2 separate regions of the Homo sapiens genome follow, and region 1 is linked to region 2. The links come from fine-mapping of genetic effects on gene expression. A gene starts in region 2. The other region holds a variant in brackets. All regions are shown on one strand. Distances are between the middles of the regions.

Region 1 (4,385 bases), 160 kb after region 2:
GTCAGTTCCTTTCTAAACAACTCACACCGCACGTATCTTGAGTGCTAAGCTTTTTTTCTCTTCTGGAATTACCTCCCATTGAAGACTCAGCCTAAATGTCACTTCTGATGTGAAGCCTTCCCTGCCTCCCTATGAGTCACAAGATATAGACTATCACCCTAGCTGTCACCTACCCCCCATCTTAATAAACATTTATGGAAGGCTCATTATGTCCCAGGAATGGTTCTAAATACTTTATACACATCATCTCATTTAATCCTTGTGTTGGTTTTCCTAAGACTGCTGTAACAAATGACTACAAACTTGGTGGCTTAAAACAACAGAAATGTATCCTCTTACAGTTCTGGAAGCCGGAAGTGGAAAATTAAGGTGTCATTAGGGTTGGTTCCTCCTGGAGGCTCTGTGAGAGAACCTGATTCATGCCTCTTTCCTAGTTTCTGGAGGCTGTGGGCAAGCCTTGGTGTTCCTTGGCTTACAGACGCGTTACTCCAATCTCTGCCATCTCCCCTCACATCACCTTTTCTTCTGTGTCTTTTCCCTTTCCCCTAAAAGGATATCTGTTATTGGACTTAGCACACACCCTAATCCAGAATGATTTCCTCTCAAGATCCTTAATAACATCTGCAAAGATTCTTTTTCCAAATAAGGTCAAAGTCACAGATTCTAATTAGACATATCTTTGGGGGTGGGGGGAGTTCCATTCAACCCGCTACAGTCCTCCTAAAACACATATGAAGTGACTACTATTATTAGCCCCATTTTATAAATCAGAACCCTTAGTGAAAGGCTAAATAATTGCCCAAGATTCACAGCTCAGGAGGGGTGGAGCACTTCAAGCAGCCAACGTGCATTCCCTTAACCACTGCTCTACACCCTTCTCTTTGTCTTATTCATTGTTGCCTCCCTAGTGCCATGCACAGAACCTGGCCCTGAATCAGGACTCAATAAATGTCTGTGGAAGAAATGGATGGATGGATGGATGGATGGATGGATGGATGGATGGATGGATGATGAAATGTTCTTCTCTCCCCCACCCCCACCCCACTCAGCCTCTAAGTAGCTGAGACACATTGCTGTCAGATGCAGCTAGCCTTTTTAAATTCAAATATATTCCTGTTGATACCAAGTGTTAGTTCTCATCTGATTTGGCATCAATGTTACATTTTCTTTCAGAGCTCGATATTGCTTTTTAAAATATCTAAGTAAAAATATGCAGCTTGGTAGATGAAAAATGTCTTTGTCTGCAACTCCAGGCTCTCCCTGAGAAAACGCCAGAGAACTCAATACCAACACTCCCCCTTCAGAGGTCACCTTGAGCCTCCTCCTCCTTCCTTGCTTAGAGGTGGCTAGGAAATGGAAGAAGAGGTCCCCTGGGTCTGAAAATTATAATAGACGGCAGCAGTGACTGCTAGTAGAGGAGGGGAGAAAAGCCGGAATTGGCTGTGATGGGAGTGGAGATCCTTGGCTGTGACTAACAGGGCAGACTGTGTCAAGATGTTTAGTGGTGAAGCCAAGTGAGTAAGAGTGGGACGGTGGCTTGAGAGAGAGAGGGTTGAGGGAAGACTGTTTTTTAGAATACACATGACTTGGACATGTTTATCACACTGGAAAGAAGGAGCCATGGCAGTTGTAGGGGCACTGACAAGCAAACTCTTACTGGGATACAGGGCACAGGAGAACAATTGGCTTTAGAGATGAAGAGGGAAGGAAGTGCAAAGGGAATGTGCTCTCCTCTCCATGAAGGTGAAAGATTCAGGGAGTGACGGGGTTCATGCTGAGGTGGGATCC[G/A]AAGTCAGAGGAGAGGGATGAGTAGGCAGAGAGGTGAAGGGTTGGAGCTGCTGCTGAGGGCTGTGTAGAAGAGAACTGGTGGAAGTAAAAGGAAGCTGAACAGAGCTGAAACCGATTAGTCAGTATTATGCTCTTCATACGACAGAGAAAGCTTACCCAGAGGGTCCAGGGTAATAGATCTTTTGCTGGGACTTCCTTCCCAACATCCCTCCACACACATACAAATGCACATAAGCATGCACACACCACCACCACCTAATAAAGAAAAACGAGAGAGAGTCACTCTAGGAATCTGAGGGGACACTACCTTTCCCCACCTACCTAATTATGTGGCTTTTTGAATTAGGGCTGGATAGCAAACTTGCCTTGTTTCTACTCACAATTTCTCTCTTGAAATTCCCATTAATGAAACAGCTTAGTTTGGTTTAGCTAACTGCATGCATGACTGCCAAAAACCACATCACAATGCAGGAGGAATGCAGTCTCTAGCAACGCTACAACAGCTTAACCACATTGTTTAAAGAGAGGAGCTGGGGCAGCCCCAGTGCTTCTGAAATCCATTTAAGATGTGTGAAAACATGAGACTGAAATTCTGACCTTTCCCTAGAGCTGGAAGAACCTCCTCCAGGGGGCTGTTTGGAAGACTGCAGATGCAGGCCTGGGCCCATCTACATCTCCCCAAGACTCTGGCTTCTGGTAGCCTGTCAAGCAGGGAAGCCCTGCCTCTGTGTCCTGTCCCTGACGGGGCATCAGCCTGGTTAAGAGTGCAGTCTCTGAAGCCAAGTTGCCTTAGTTCAAGTCTTGACTGCTCCATTTATAGTGTGGCCTTGGGCACTTAACCTTCACACACTTCAGCTTCTCCATCTATTTTTGGCATTAAAGTTATTGACATAAAAGTACCTAGTCACATACATGTTATAGGGATTAAATACAATAAGTAAGGCCTTTCCCATAGTTTGTGCTCACTTGGTATAATTGATCATCATCATTCTCATTGTTATTGTGCTTAATTCTTTAGTGACTTGGAACCTTTGTTTCCCCATCTGCAAAGAAAGGACAATAACATCACCTTCCTTAAGGTGGCTTAAAATAAAAACAGATTAAAGAGACTAGGATGTGCTTGGTATGTGGTAGACACTTGATATGTGGCCATTGATTTTACTACATCTCTACTACATCCACTGATTTTTCTCTTGCTGGCCTTGCAGAAATGTAAATGGCTTGATTTCTTCAGTCGTTAAGTATGAAGATGGAAGATGGGTAGAGCTCACACCACAGGCTCTGGGGTCAGATAGAGCCAGGTTTGAGTTCTCTTATGAGCTTTGAAACCTGGGGTGCTATTTAGCCTCTTTTATGCCTTAGTTTTTTTAATCCGTAGAAAGGGGAATAAAAGTATCCACTGTGAAAATGCCATGTGATAAAGCAGTATCGGGGCCAGAGGAGGACTGCAGAGTGTGAAATGCATGCTCCTTGAGGGCAGGGGCTCTCTCAGGCTTCCTGTTATATCCCCACAACTATGAGCACACCTGGCTTGTTGTAGGGCTGCTCCATAAGTATTTGCAGCCTGACTAATGTAGAAGTGAGGCAGAAGCTCAGTGCTGATCTTTGAAATGAGGTGTGGTCCAAGAGGGCCTCATAATTTCACTCTGTATAATTGGTTGAGCAAGTGCCACCCTCACTTATTAGTCTTTTTTTCTGTACTGCAGCTCTGTTTGAGTCTTCCAGAAACAGAAGTATTGCTCTGCAAATACTTTTCTGCCACTGCAGAGGGTTCTCATACTTAAAAAGTTCCAGTCAGTCACCATGCATCCCACCACCCCACGCCCGACACTACCTGTGAAGAGGCTTCCCAAGTGATAGATGGTCATGCTTTGACTAAGCAGCCATGAGAAGATGTCTTGCTTCTATTAATTATCCTAAATTGGTTATTGATTATGGTTAGATTTAGAAATATAGTCACTGTCCTGGTTTAAATGTAAACACTGCAGGATTCTTGCTTATGAACCTTGTGAAGATACTAGAAGATCCTAACTGACCTCCAAATCACACTTTGAGAGTTCTTGGAAACAAAGTTCCTACGTTACTAAAGAATTAAAAACTACAACAACGATGATGATGATGGTGGTGGTTACCATCAATTGCACACAGACTATGAAAGAGGCATGGAGCTAAATTCTTTACATGTATTACTTTATTTAATCCTCATAACATGTATATGAGGGTTAGAAAAGGGGCTTCCCTCTCCCCAAGATTTACTGATGAAGTACACACTCAGCTGCCTGACCCTAAGTGTTCAGGGAGCACTGGGAGCCAATATGCATGAGCATTTGAGGGTAAAACACTCTACTCCATGGCCTGCTAGAGGGATTCTTCTGAATTTAAATCTGAGCCTGTCTCTCTCAGACTTAAAGCACATCTCTTCAGTGAATCTTCACTCATCCTTCAGGTCTCAGCTTACATGCCACCTCCTCTAGGAAGGGTTCCCTTGCCCCCAGGATTGAATGAGGCTTCCCTCCCAGGTGCTCCTGTAGCCTTTAGGGCTTACTGAGATCATTGCACTGAACTGATAAGTCAGAATTGAAGTGTTCTGCTCACTT
Region 2 (4,385 bases):
TGCGCGCTCCTCAATGCAAAGGAATCCAGCAACATCCCCAATTCAGACGCGGACAAAAGAAACTTTAATTAAGGTCTCTTTCTGCCCCGCGCGCTGCGCGTTTCTCTCTCCTGAGGCTGTTGATGTCCAACTCCAAGATCCAAGAAATAGAAATGGTACAATCAGCCCATGCCCTTGAACTTCAATTGCTCCTGACTTGCTGCATTGATTTTTTTGATACTGTAGAACCCCCATCCCCAACCCCCACCGCTCCCAGTCCAATTAAAACCGTAGGAGACTTTCGACCTGGTGGTGGAGGGGGGGAACCACTCCTTTGCAAAAGAGATAGTTCAGAATGATACGGGAGAGATTACACTAAATAAAAATTCAAGGTGTGAAAGCTTCATCTTGGCTCGCGTGTCTTCAACACCATGACACCTTATCATTAAGAGCGCTGATTGTTACTTTCCGAGCCTTTAGATGATCAGCCAGAAAGTGCAAACAACGCGGGGCTGGAGGGTGTAAAGTTATTTAAGCAGGCGTTCTTTTTTTCTTTTGGTGCGCAGTCAAAACATTTCACAAGTTAGGAAAAGAAAGTGGTGGTTCCGAAGCTCGGAATGATGGGCTCTTTTCCTCCTCCACCCCCCCACCTTCCATATCAGGAAAGAAATAAAACGCACAATGAGCCTTTATTTCAGGAGAGAAGACTTCAAAATACGTGCCAGTAATGGACAATTTGAGCTTTTCACTGGAAATACTCACACCGCAAGCTGGAAAGGGATTAAAAAGCCCCACGTGGTTGATCTGGGTTTATACTTGCAACCTCCAGTTCCCCACGTATGTTCTTTGCAAAGGTTGGCCTCTAGATGGATGCAAGTAAGGGACCCTCTGGGGCTCGGGCTCGGCGCCTCGGGCAGGGCTGACGTTGGGAGCGCTATGAGCTGCCGGGCAGGGTCCTCACCGGGGGCTTCCTCTGCGGGCCAGGGCTGCCGGGCGCCACCGGGACGCGAGCGCGCACGCCTCGGCCCGGCGGCCGCGCTCCTCGCACCGCCTTCTCCGCAGGTCTTTATTCATCATCTCATCTCCCTCTTCCCCTTCTCCTTCTCCTTTGCCTCCTTCTCCTTTGCCTCCTTCTCCTCCTCTTCCTCCCCCTCCTCCACCACCACCTCCTCCTCCTCTGCCGCCGCCACCTCCTCCTCTTGCATCTCACTGGCCTGGCTCTGAGTGACAAAGACAATGTCCCAGCCTTAACTTTGCAACCACCTTGCCTCCTTCTGGGGTTCAGCAGGGGGGAGGGGGAACAGCAGCAGCAGCCTCAGCATCTCCTCCAGCTTCTCCTTCTGCTCTTCTCGAGCTCTTGGATAATTCTTCCTCTTTTTTCCCCTAGCCTTTTTCCTCATTTCTTTCTTTCTTTCTTTTTTTCCTTCCTCTCTGCTGCACGTTGTTGTTGTTATTAGAAAGGCTTCGCGCACCCCCTGGTGCTCCGGCGTTTTGTGTGGCAGGAGAAGATTGTCTTCCTTCTCTCTTTCTGTCTTGCTTTCTCTCTCCCCCTGGTTGCTCATTATTCAGAGAGAGACACAGAGGGAGGGAGAGAGAGAGAGCGCGCGAGGGAGAGGGAGGAGAGGAGAGAGAAGAGGAGAGAGAGGGGAGAGAGAGAGTGAGAGGGAGAGGGAGGGAGGGAGAGAGAGAGAGAGGGAGAGAGACGGATATCTCAGGTCATCTGCAGCTGCAGCGAGTCTGAGGAGCCGAGGAAGGCAGGGAAGATGGCGATCCTCCATTGCTGAGACCCGGCAGAAGCACATGAGACTCCCAAACAACTTCCACAACAATAACCCGAGCAGGAAGAGGAGAAAGAGAAAGAGGATAAGGAGGCGGTGGGGCTGGAGAACCCGAAGCACCTCCCGGCGCCGGGACGCTTCTTCTGTAAGTTACTGCAATTAACAACCACCTCGGGGTGGTCCGAGTGCTCCGGGGAAGAGAGCGCGGGGTGGTGGAGGCACAAACGCGCTCATTCATTCGGCCAAGGAGGGTTGGAGGAGCGGGGAGGAGAGGAAGTCCCCTGCATGGACTGGCTGTTGGAAGAGGAGAAGAAGCGAGAGAGAAGAGGAGGAGGGGGAGGAGGGAGAGCAGGAGGGGGAGGAGGAAGAGGAGGAGGAGAAGCGAGGGAGGAAGAGGAGGAGGAGGAAGAGGAGGAGAAGGTGGTAGTGGTGGCAGTGGAGGTGGCTGTGCTTTTCCTGCTGGCTGCTGCTCCTGCTGGGGGGAGTGAGCGCGGTGGCTTAATTAATTTCGTGTAGTTCTATGAAGAGAAGAGAAAATGAAAGATGAGTGAGAAGAGAGCTGGAGGCTTAGGACGGATGCTCCGAGTGTGGGGACAGGAGTAGGGACAGAGGGGGGCGGAGGGCGGGAGGCCGGAGACCTGAGCCGAGAGCCAGAGGGAGCGAGCGAGGGTCAGAGGAGGGAGAGCTCCGTGCGAGCGGCCCCGACCTGAGCGGGTTGACCTCTTTCTTTCTCTGTCCCTCTCCTTCCTTTCCCCCTTCTGTCTGCCTGTCCCCCGCCCGATGGCAAAGCCGTGCGGATTGGCAGCCCCCCTCTTCCTCAGGTATTTGGCTCTCTCTCTCTCTCTCTCTCTCTCTCTCTCTCTCTCTCTCTCTCTCTCTCTCTCTCTCTCTCTCTCTCTCCCTCTCCCCGAAGTTGGGATGCGGGGTCGGGATGTGTCGGGGGGTGGCTGCTGCAGCTGCTGGTGCCGGTGCTGCTGGTGAACAGAGAGGCGAGGAGCGGGGGGCACCGGCCGGGTGGGGGGCGCAGGTTCAGGAGCGGCTGAGGAGCTGTCTCCAGGCTGGAGGTTCAGAAGCGTCTGGTGGAGGAGGACAACGGTTTCTGGAGAGGAGAAGCCATTACACACGCTTGGCTCTCCTCTGAGGAAGGGAGAAAGGAAGGCAGGGGCCTGGGGGGGCGTCTCACTCCTGGTGCAGTTCCCAGGGGTCTGCCCTCCTTCCAGGCACGAGGGGAAGCCGCAGCCGCCCCCCATTGGAGCAGCCCCTCTTTCCCTTTCTTTATCTCCCTGTCCTCCATTTGCAAGCTGTCTGCTTTGGTTCCAGTCCAGACTCCAAAACACAAAGCTCCTTCTCACGTTCATTCTCCAGGCTGTTCACCATTCCTGAAGGAACCCTCGTTTTCTTTTCATTGTGGCTTCTAACCTACAGAGAGGGAGGGAGGGAGGCTGCCTGGAGTTCCTTTTATATTCCTCCCCAACCAAGAAAAAAAAAAGTTTCATTTTTAAGCACGCGTCTGGGATGGGGAAAGACCAACCAGTTGGGGCTTTCTCCCAGGGCTCCCGGGGGCTGTGTCTGAGTGTCTGTGTTGGCTGTTTGGTTTGCTTTGGTTTTGTTTCTGGAGGTTGCTTGCAGGTTTTTGGAGGAAGTGACTAGTTTGGTTAAGAGCTGGGAACTGAGTCAGGTAAGCCGTGTCATGTTGTAACTCCACCAGAAAATGGAGGAGAGCGGGTTTCCAGGAGACAAAGCTGAGATGAGAAGTGTTTATAAAATTATGGATGTCTCCATTTTGAAGCTCTGTTGGTGATGGCTGGAGGAGGAGGAGGCTTGCTTGCCTACTCCTTCTCTCTTTCCAGAGGGAAACCTTGTGGTGGTTCCTCACTGTCTATTCATTATGCAAGGAAATGAGGGCTTTTAAGGGTTCCTCAGATTTTTCTCCACCAAAGAGTGCTTTCACAAGTTATTGAGGCGTTTGTTTCCATTTTAAAGTAAACTTTTGGAATTTTTTTTCTCCTTTTGAGTGGACCTGAAGGGTTTTGACCTCCTTCAGGAAAGGCAAGGCAAAAACCTTAAAACAGTTCCACTGAGGTCTTCACACAACTTTAAGCTGCTCCAGGTCTCCTGAAAGTCACCAGGAAATGTGATTTCCTCCTTGTGAAGATGGTGATGGCCCTAAGCTGAGATTTTTTTGAGTTCTAGGGTTTGGTTATCATCATGTTTTGATGCATTGCAAGACTTTATTGTCTGATTTGAGTTGATTTCTGCAAATATAAAAAATAATAAGAATAATCCTGCAAGATCTCAGAGGAACTCTAAGACTGGCTAACACCAGTTTCTCCAGGTTCTCCATTTCTCTTCAGGTCGTTCCATTTGTATGTTAGGCCTTCTTTCAGTTTCTTTGTTTCCCCTTTCCCTTTCCGTCGGCTAATTTTTTCTGTGTTCTGAAGTACTCTTAAGTCTTCAGAAATATCAGTATGTCTTCTTAACAATGTCGCTATGGAAACAAATTTTAAAAACATGATGTCAGTTGAGAAAACCTTATGTCCAGGTATCTTCACCTTTTTAATTGGGAGGAATTTATTAATCATGTAGGAAGACATTTTGTGAGGATAATTTGAAAAAAGGACCCAGTGC

What was found. PIP is the estimated chance that this variant, and not a neighbour inherited with it, causes the effect.
Region 1: its variant is the best candidate, but not a certain one, in a credible set for the expression of ZNF462 in lung (TOPMed, PIP 0.74).

Annotation. Positions count from the first base shown.
Region 1 is chr9:107,017,904-107,022,288 of GRCh38, forward strand. The region is part of intron 4 of LOC340512 (a long non-coding RNA gene); the gene reads right to left. Among named protein-coding and RNA genes, the nearest start is that of ZNF462, 160 kb to the left of the region's middle. The variant G/A (reference allele first, on the strand shown) is at 1,789.
Region 2 is chr9:106,861,454-106,865,838 of GRCh38, forward strand. It overlaps ZNF462 (zinc finger protein 462), which reads left to right and starts at 1,713. Exons shown (of 13, transcript NM_021224.6): 1 at 1,713-1,902.